Regions from separate parts of the Homo sapiens genome. Here region 2 is linked to region 1. Evidence: fine-mapped expression QTL. A gene starts in region 1. The other region holds a variant in brackets. All regions are shown on one strand. Distances are between the middles of the regions. Region 1 holds the start of GPR55 (G protein-coupled receptor 55). Region 2 has its middle 16 kb from the start of SPATA3-AS1.

What was found. PIP is the estimated chance that this variant, and not a neighbour inherited with it, causes the effect.
Region 2: its variant is fine-mapped to the expression of GPR55 in whole blood (TOPMed, PIP above 0.99).

The regions. Positions count from the first base shown.
Region 1 is chr2:230,922,696-230,927,087 of GRCh38, forward strand. GPR55 (G protein-coupled receptor 55) reads right to left here and starts at 2,547. Exons shown (of 2, transcript NM_005683.4): 1 at 2,473-2,547. RefSeq lists enhancers at 1,892-2,680, 2,244-2,363, 2,484-2,533, 3,354-3,583 and a silencer at 3,804-3,983.
Region 2 is chr2:230,977,841-230,982,232 of GRCh38, forward strand. No RefSeq gene overlaps it. Among named protein-coding and RNA genes, the nearest start is that of SPATA3-AS1, 16 kb to the right of the region's middle. RefSeq lists an enhancer at 3,910-4,049. The variant A/G (reference allele first, on the strand shown) is at 2,766.

The DNA.
Region 1 (4,392 bases):
CTCCTGAGTAGATGGGATTACAGGCATGTGCCACCACGCCCGGCTAATTTTGTATTTTTCGTAGATACAGCGTTTCTCTATGTTGGTCAGGCTGGTCTCGAACTCCCGACCTCAGGTGATCCACCTGCCTCCCAAAGTGCTGGGATTACGGGTGTGAGCCATCGCTCCTGGCCTAATTTTTTATTTTTTGTAGAGACAAGGTCTTACTGTGTTGCCCAGGCTGGCCTCAAATTTCTGGGATCGAGCAATCCTCTTGCCTCTGCCTCCCAAACTGCTGGGATTACAGGCGTGAGCCCGAGCACCCGGCCTGTGCTGGTTCTTAATTGCTGACTCTACACATTCTGCAGCTGGGATTCCCGCAACTGCCAGTGGTCCATGGTACCCTCATCCGCCCACACCCTCAAGGATCCAGTGTCCCACTTGCGGCAGCCCTGTGGCTTTGCCTGCACAGCTGAGACCTCGAAACCCAGCTATGTGGCTCCACACCAGACCTACCTTTCTTCCCTCTGTGGCCTGGACTTTCCAGAGAACACAAGCAACAAGAAGATCACAACCCTAAGGAGGGTTGCAACTGAGAAGGTGGCCCTTCCTGCAGCTGCCAGGCTGTTATCTGCACAGAGCATTGCAGCGTGAGCCACCTCAGAGATGGCAGGGCCAGAGCCTAAAAAAGCAGCATTGGCACAGCCGCAGGGATGGATTTGAGGAGCCCTGGAATACTCCCCCAAAAATGCCGCAGTTAGAATACACAGCGTATCCACCAGTAACACCATAGTGTGAATAAAGTCATCCGCCTGTGCCTGAGCTGGGCTTCTGGGGGCCACGATAGAAGAAGGAACAGGACACAGAGGGGACAGAGCACATGACCACAATCTCCCCAATGCCTGAATGTTGCTGGAGCTTGGGCTGGGGGGTTGGAGTGGGGCTGGGAGAGGGGAGGGGCCGGCTTGGGGACGTGAAAGGTGGCCAGCAGTGTGCTCAGTGATCTACGATGGGAACTCAGGACACTCCTAGGAGATTGCCCTAATTATGCCCATTTTACAGATAAGGACAGTAAGGCTTAGAGATGTTAAAGATTCTACCCAAGGTCAAAAAGGCCGTGAGGGACCAGCTGGAACTCATGTTCTGAGTCTCTCCTCCTCGCTCACCCTGGCCCCCATCAGCATCACAAGCAAGAGCATCTGGGATCCAGGAGTTGCCAAGCCCCCTCCTCACTTCTTTGCATGCTCATGCTCCTCTTTCTCCTTGGACTCTCTCCTCCACTGCTAAAAATCCCACCTCTTCCTTGAAATGCCCACTTCCCAGGTTCACCCACATCATCTGATGTGGTTTTCCCAGTGCAGTCCTGAGTGGGTGCCTTGAAAAGTCCTCTGTGTATCCCAGGGGGAGCGTGTCCCTGCTGTCCTCCAGCAACCCCAGGACCAGGACCATGTCCCTTTCACCTTTATCACCGAGCCTCACATACAGTTTGTCGTTGGGAAGGTCTTATTGCATGAAAGAGGGGGTGAAGAAATGACGGAACAAATGGCCAGGTCTGCTGCAGCTCCACAGTGACTGGTGCTCCCTTTACAGCTGGGACAGCCGCTCAGAACCAAAGGCAAACCTTGCCTTCCACAGAGCTGTGGGCGGCACTTTGCCCTGCCCTGTCCTCTCATCCCCACTGCCTCGGGCAGCACAAAGCCCAGGTGAAGCCAGGCCAGCCAGACATGTCCTGACTTTGTGTTCTCACTCTCAGGGAAGAATCTAGAATGTTCAGGGTTCTAAGTGCTGCTGTGTCTTCCCGCCCAGCCTCTCCAAGAGACACTTGGCTAGGGTTAGAGAACAATGCAGCTATAATGTAGGATAGCAACCAGGGCTTTCCTCTCCATCATTTACTGCCCTTGAGCGCCCCGTGAGGAAGAAACCGTGTATTGCCTCATGCCCCAGAGAGGTAAACGGAGGCTAGAGAAATTACGCAGCTGGTGAGTGGGTGAGCCTGGGCTCCCAGGCTCCTTCTGGTCCCCAGTAAGCACTTGCTCAGGGCTGCAGGATGATCCCTGAGAGTGTGTCATCTCGGGCGCTTGGTGGTTTCCCAACAAGATTCTGGGGAATGGGCGGCGGGCTTGGTGGAGGGCGGTGGCACGTGAGCTACATGCCCCGGGAAGGCTCCCAGGCTGCCTATGGGGAGGTTTCCCGACCCGACATGATGCTGCAACCCTGAGTCAGATCAGGAGGAAGTTGAGGGTTCGTAGAAAAATGTCACTCGTAATCGGGGACAAACCAGGTCTGCCTGCCGCTGCTGCTGTCACGGAGGCTGCCTGGAGGCTGCCGCTGCCCTGACACCTGGGACTGCTCGCTGAGTTGGGACAGGTGTGCACAAAGCCCAGGCCCACACAAGCCCCACTGATCTTAGGAGAGTTACCTGCAGTCCACAAGAGCAAGGTCAGGTTGGAGGCTCCGTGCCTTAGTTTCTCTAAATGGCCCAGAGGCTGTTACCTGTTGGTGGTCCGGTGCAGCTGAGAGGGCTGAGAGATGTCATTTCTCCTCCAGGCCTGGCTGTCAGCCTGTTCTGGGGAGAGTCACTTCCCCTCTCTGGGTCTCGACTTCCTTGTGAGTGAAATAAAGGGGTGGGACCAGATGCTCTTTGAGCCGCTCCAGTGTCACCCTGTCTGGCTTAGGGGCTCTTGCTCTGGGGTCTACAGAGAGGCTGTGTGGAACTAGAGTGTGGACATGGGGAGCAGTTTCCAGGAGGAGGGTCTACACTCTCCCGCCCTCTTGGAAGATCTGCACGCCCCCCTCCCGCAGCTCCAAAAAACAAAACAAAAAACCAAAAAGCCAAAAATCACACTGCATGTGTCAAGCCCTGGGAAGCCTCTGGAGGAGGAAGCCTCCTACGCACCCCAGACACCCTAACAGGGGCACCACACAGGGGCAGCCATTCTCAGCACCTGCCAAGGGCCGTCGTGGCTTCCAGCACTTTGGGGGTTTAGGATTTGAAACTGCTGCCCACAGAAAGGAAAGGAAGGTGGTGCTATTTAGTACTTGCAGGTTAGGACTTGCGTGCCTAGCGTCGGAGGAGACCTCAGCCACTGCATGTGTGTCTGCAAGAATGGTCAGTGGGGCCCCACAGGTTCCCCAGCCTCGGCTTCTCTGTCCCAGGCCTGCACAGAGATTTGGGGCAGCCTTGGGCCTGTGGCTTCCTAGGGCCCTGCAAGCAGAGATTTCCCTGGCATCTCCCACCTTCAGGGCTGGGAGGGCTGAGACTCACCCGTGGGCCTGGGTGGCTCTTAGCTGGGAGCCCTCATAGATTCCAGCCCATCAGGAAAGTCTGGGCTGAAACTACCCCGGCAGATGCAGCTCTCATGCCCTGGAGGTGCTGGGAGGCCCTGTCGGAGGACCAAACACAAGCAATTTTTAAAAGCTATGCGTGCTGGGACTTTCAGGTGTCTACAGGAATAGAAACTACTCCTGGGTTTTTTGGATGATTCATCCAACACATGGGTCCCCTCTGTAAATAACACCTTGCAAGTCACTGCAGGGGAACCACCTGGCCCTCTGGAGCTGGGTCTTCCCACTGTCTGGTGAAGAGGTTGATGGAACCATGACAACTTTTAAGCTCTCACCTGGGCTTGTGCGATGGGCAGTGCCAAGTCCACTGCCTGCTCCAGGCCGTGGAGCCCCAAGCTGGCCTGGGTGCCAAGACAGGGCACAGGGCAGTCCTGCCCCCAGCGAGGCCCCCCTACTGGGCCACCAGCCCAATCTAAGCCAAAGGCTGGCTACTGGGCAAGGGGGGGCAGCCAGGCCCGCACCCTGGGTGCGGGAGGAGGCCAGGAGCCTGCTGGGACAGTAGCAGGGAGGAAACACACCGGTGTCTGGCACCCACCTCCATACCCAGAGCCTGCAATGTGAGGCCCCAGGAAGGCATCCACACTGAGTGGCCTGCAGGGAGCAGTGTCTCTGCTCAGCCCCTTCTCAAAGGGAGCCTTGTCTACTCCCATTCTGGCTACCTTCTTTTTTTTTTTTTTTTTTTTTTTTTGATACAGAGTCTCGCTCTGTTGCCCAGGCTGCAGTGCAGTGGCACTATCTTGGCTCACTGCAACCTCCACTTCCCGGGTTCAAGTGATTCTCCTGCCTCAGCCTCCTGAGTAGCTGGGATTACAGGCTTGTGCCACCAGGCCCGACTAACTTTTTTCGTATTTTTAGTAGAGACAAGGTTTCACCATGTTGGTCAGGCTGGTCTTGAACTCCCGACCTCGTGATTCACCCACCTCGGCCTCCCAAAGTGTTAGGATTACAGATGTGAGCCACCGCTCCCGGCCCTGGCTACCTTCTTTTAAGAAATGAATATTTCTACTTTATTGCTGTTGCAATATTAAAATTTTTAAATTTTTAAATTTTTGAAAACATGCACATGAT
Region 2 (4,392 bases), 55 kb after region 1:
TTTTTATTTTTTCAGAGACGGGGTCTCGCTCTCTCACCAAGGTTGGAGTGCAGTGGCTCACTGGAGCCTCAGCCTCCTGGGCTCAAGCAATCCTCCTGCTTCAGCCTCCCAGTGGCACACGCCACCGTACCCAGCTATTTATTTATTTATTTATTCATTTATTTATTTATTTATTTATTTTTGTAGAAATGAGGTCTTCCTACGTTGCCCAGGCTGGTCTCAAACTCCTGGGCTCAAGCAATTCTCCCACCTCGGCCTCCCAAAGTGCTGGGATTACAGGTGTGAGCCACTATTCTCAACCCATTTTTACTTTTTAACTACATAAATGTTTCACGTATTTTAAAAATAAAATTAAATGTTAAAAAGGTGGGATAAAGAATACCCTACAATAGAATGCAAAAGAAGGAAATCAAACTGATAACGCCTCAAACTGATACCACAACCACACAGAGCAAACACTCTGATTGTGGAGAAGGATCTGTTCTAAGAACAGAAGAACTATAGAAAAACTTCTATTTAGTATGTTTACTGTTAGCAGTAATATTGGTCTTGTAATTCTGAAACTCTTTTGTGCATGTATAGTGGAAAGCAAATAAGCAAATATATATTTTACTGACGGGGAAAAAAGATACTAGTAGTCAGTAAAGAAGTGAAAGAAAAACTGTAATGTTAAATTTGAGTAGGAAATATATCAGTTTGAACTTGTAATTTTTTTTAAAATGAGTTTTCTAATCCTGTCCACTGAATGACAGCCGAGTAGCAATGATCGCATATATCACCAGGTTCTTTCTTTCTCTATACCATTCACCACTAAAGGCACCAGGGCTCGTTAGAGAAATGGTAGATTCTAGGTCAGGGGTGAAAATGTACAACGTGAGCATGGAATCTCTTGTCACACCAGAAAGCAAAACAGTTTTGGAAGATAAATGTGATCATGTCAAAAGGATTCAGGAGCTGACCTGAGGGCTCCCACTGCTCAAATGTGGGATGATTTGAACATCAAAATGAATAACTGTAGTTTCAATTATAGCATTTTTAAAACTCCACGAACCCACAGTGATTAATGTTTTTAATATAGTGGGATTTGGAAATTCTTACAGAAAAAAAGGCCAGCTAGTAAATGTAGCAGGAATAAAAGAATGAAAAACTACCATTTTCCAACCTCCAATGTAATGCTTCCTTCAGGTAAGCATCACCAAGAGTTGCCAAAACTGTTTGGTGACTTGGATATTCAGTTAATCCTGTGACCATGTGAAGATTCTAAAAATTACTTACAAAAGGGGAAGCAGAGTGAGGATTAGTGATCAAACTCAGAATGACCAAGAGTGGCTGACATTATGTACTCCAGATGTGATGCCTGACATTATTTACTCCAGATGTGATACCTGACATTATTTACTCCAGATGTGATACTGACATTATGTACTCCAGATGTGATACCTGACATTATTTACTCCAGATGTGATACCTGACATTACTTACTGCAGAAGTGATACTGACATTATTTACTCCAGATGTGATGCCTGACATTATTAACTCCAGATGTGATGCCTGACATTATTTACTCCAGTTGCGATACTGACATTATTTACTCCCGATGTGATACCTGATGTTATTTACTCCAGATGTGATACTGATGTTTTTTACTGCAGATGTGATACCTGACATTATTTACTCCAGATGTGATACTGACATTATTTACTCCAGATGTGATGCCTGACATTATTTACTCCAGATGTGATAACTGACATTATTTACTGCAGATGTGATACTGACATTATTTATTCCAGATGTAATGCCTGACATTATTTACTCCAGGTGTGATACTGACATTATTTACTGCAGATGTGATACCTGACATTATTTACTCCAGATGTGATATTGACATTATTTACTCCAGATGTGATACTGACATTATTTACTCCAGATGTGATACCTGACATTATTTACTCCAGATGTGATGCCTGACATTATTTACTCCAGATGTGATACTGACATTATTTACTCCAGATGTGATACTGACATTATTTACTCCAGATGTGATACTGACATTATTTACTCCAGATGTGATACCTGACATTATTTACTCCAGATGTGATAACTGACATTATTTACTCCAGATGTGATAACTGACATTATTTACTCCAGATGTGATAACTGACATTATTTACTCCAGATGTGATATTGACATTATTTACTCCAGATGTGATGCCTGACATTATTTACTCCAGATGTGATGCCTGACATTATTTACTCCAGATGTGATGCCTGACATTATTTACTCCAGATGTGATAACTGACATTATTTACTCCAGATATGATACTGACATTATTTACTCCAGATGTGATACTGACATTATTTACTCCAGATGTGATACTGACATTATTTACTCCAGTTGTGATGCCTGACATTATTTACTCCAGATGTGATATTGACATTATTTACTCCAGATGTGATACTTGACTGAGAAGTCTACAGTGGCACCTATGCAGTACAGAACTCTGGCCAAAGATATTCAACCTGCATCTAATCTTGTGTAAGCAATCAGATTAACCCACATATGGGACACTCTACAAGACAACTGTCCTGGACTCTTTATCAAAAACTAATTTCACATAAACAAAGAACAACAACAACAATAAAAAGGTGAAAGACTGTTTCAGATGAAAAGAGACTGAAGAGCCATAACAACCAAATATCATACATGATCTTGATTGGATCCTGGATAGGAAAAAAAAATCCAGCATTAAAAGCTCTTCCGGGG[A/G]CAACTGTAGAGATTTGAATACAGATAGTACACTGGGTGCTATTATGGTTGTGATCATGGTATTGTGGTTTTGTGGGAGAATATCCTTATTAGGAGATGCTGAGATATCTAGAAGTGAAGTGTCAAGATGTCAGCAACTTGCTTTCAAATTGCTCAGCAAAATAAAAGTATGTGGAAATATACAAAGACAGAGAGAGACCAACAGAGACAAAGCAATTGTGGCAAAATGTTAACAGTTGGAGAATCCAGGGTAAGTTCATTGTACTCTTCTTTGAACTTTTCAGAATGTTTGAAAATTTCAAAATAAAATGTGAGGGGGAGGGGAGGGAGTTGCAGGGTGGATAGAGAAGGTTGGGATAGAGCTAGCTGCCAGACCCAAACCATCTGCCACCAACACAGGGAGTTTAAAATGGCCCTCTAAATTACAATAGACTCATCTTCGTTTTGAAATCTTCCTAGGACGGGTGCAGAGGCTCATGTCTGTAATCCCAGCTACTCAGGAGTCTGAGGCACAAGAATCACTTGAACCTGGGAGGCGGAGGTTGGAGTGAGCCTCGATCATGCCACTGCACTCCAGCTGGGGTGACAGAGCAAGACTCTGTCTCAAAAAAAAAAAAAAAAAAAGAAAAAGAAAAACAGAAATCTTCCTAAAAGGAAGAGAAAGCTATACTACACTTTCCTCGAACCTCAAAGCCCCCACTGCTTATAGAAACTTTGAACCCAGTACCCACTGGAAAATAATGAATGGGAAACACACCTGGTAAACACAGTCCAGGTAGAGAGGAAGAGCCTCCCGATGCCCCCAGCCCTGGGTAGGAATCACCAAACCCTACCCCCCAGTTACCAGGCCTGTGAAGCCTCTGGCTTGTCCCAGCTTTGCACTCTTATGGGGAGGGGTGGGGAGAGCCCATCTACCACGCCCGTGTGTCTCCTGTCTTATCATCTAGGACATTCTTACATGGACCTCAGGCACTACTGGGGAAGGCTTTATTCCTTTTCAACACCATCCTCACTCAAAACTGCATTCCTTCATTCATTTGCTTATTTATTCAATGATTTGGCAAGTATTTATTGAACACCAGTGATGCACGAGGCACTGTTTTAGGAACCAGGGACACGACAAGGAATAAGCAGCCGTGGCATCTGTCTTCTGCGGAGCTCACAGGCAAATTGCAACTGTGACAAGTACCACAAAGGGGAGGAACAAGGTGCCCATCAAAGCTGGTGGCATTTGTGTGACAAGCAGGAAATACAATCAACAGGCTTTGGGGATGGGCTGGGTTTGGCGGACGATGAGAAGGAGTGTCAAGAGACACTCCCAGGGTTCTGACTAGTATAATTGGACAGGCAGTGGTGTTCTTCACCAGGACATCCTGGAAGAGGCCTGCAGTGGAGAAAGAGGCGACTCACACCCATGCAGGCCACGGGAGCACAGGTCAGGCACGGAAAGGAGAGGCCTGGGATGTGGTGTGGGTGGGTGGATTGCCTGTGGATTGGTGGTTATGGAAGTTATGTGTAGCAGGGGCCTGTTTTGCGCCTCCACCAGAAACTTCTGCCACTCCCAGGAGGACCACACAGAAGGTCTTCAGTCTCATGCAATTTCCTTTGATTTTGCTCATCTTTGTGC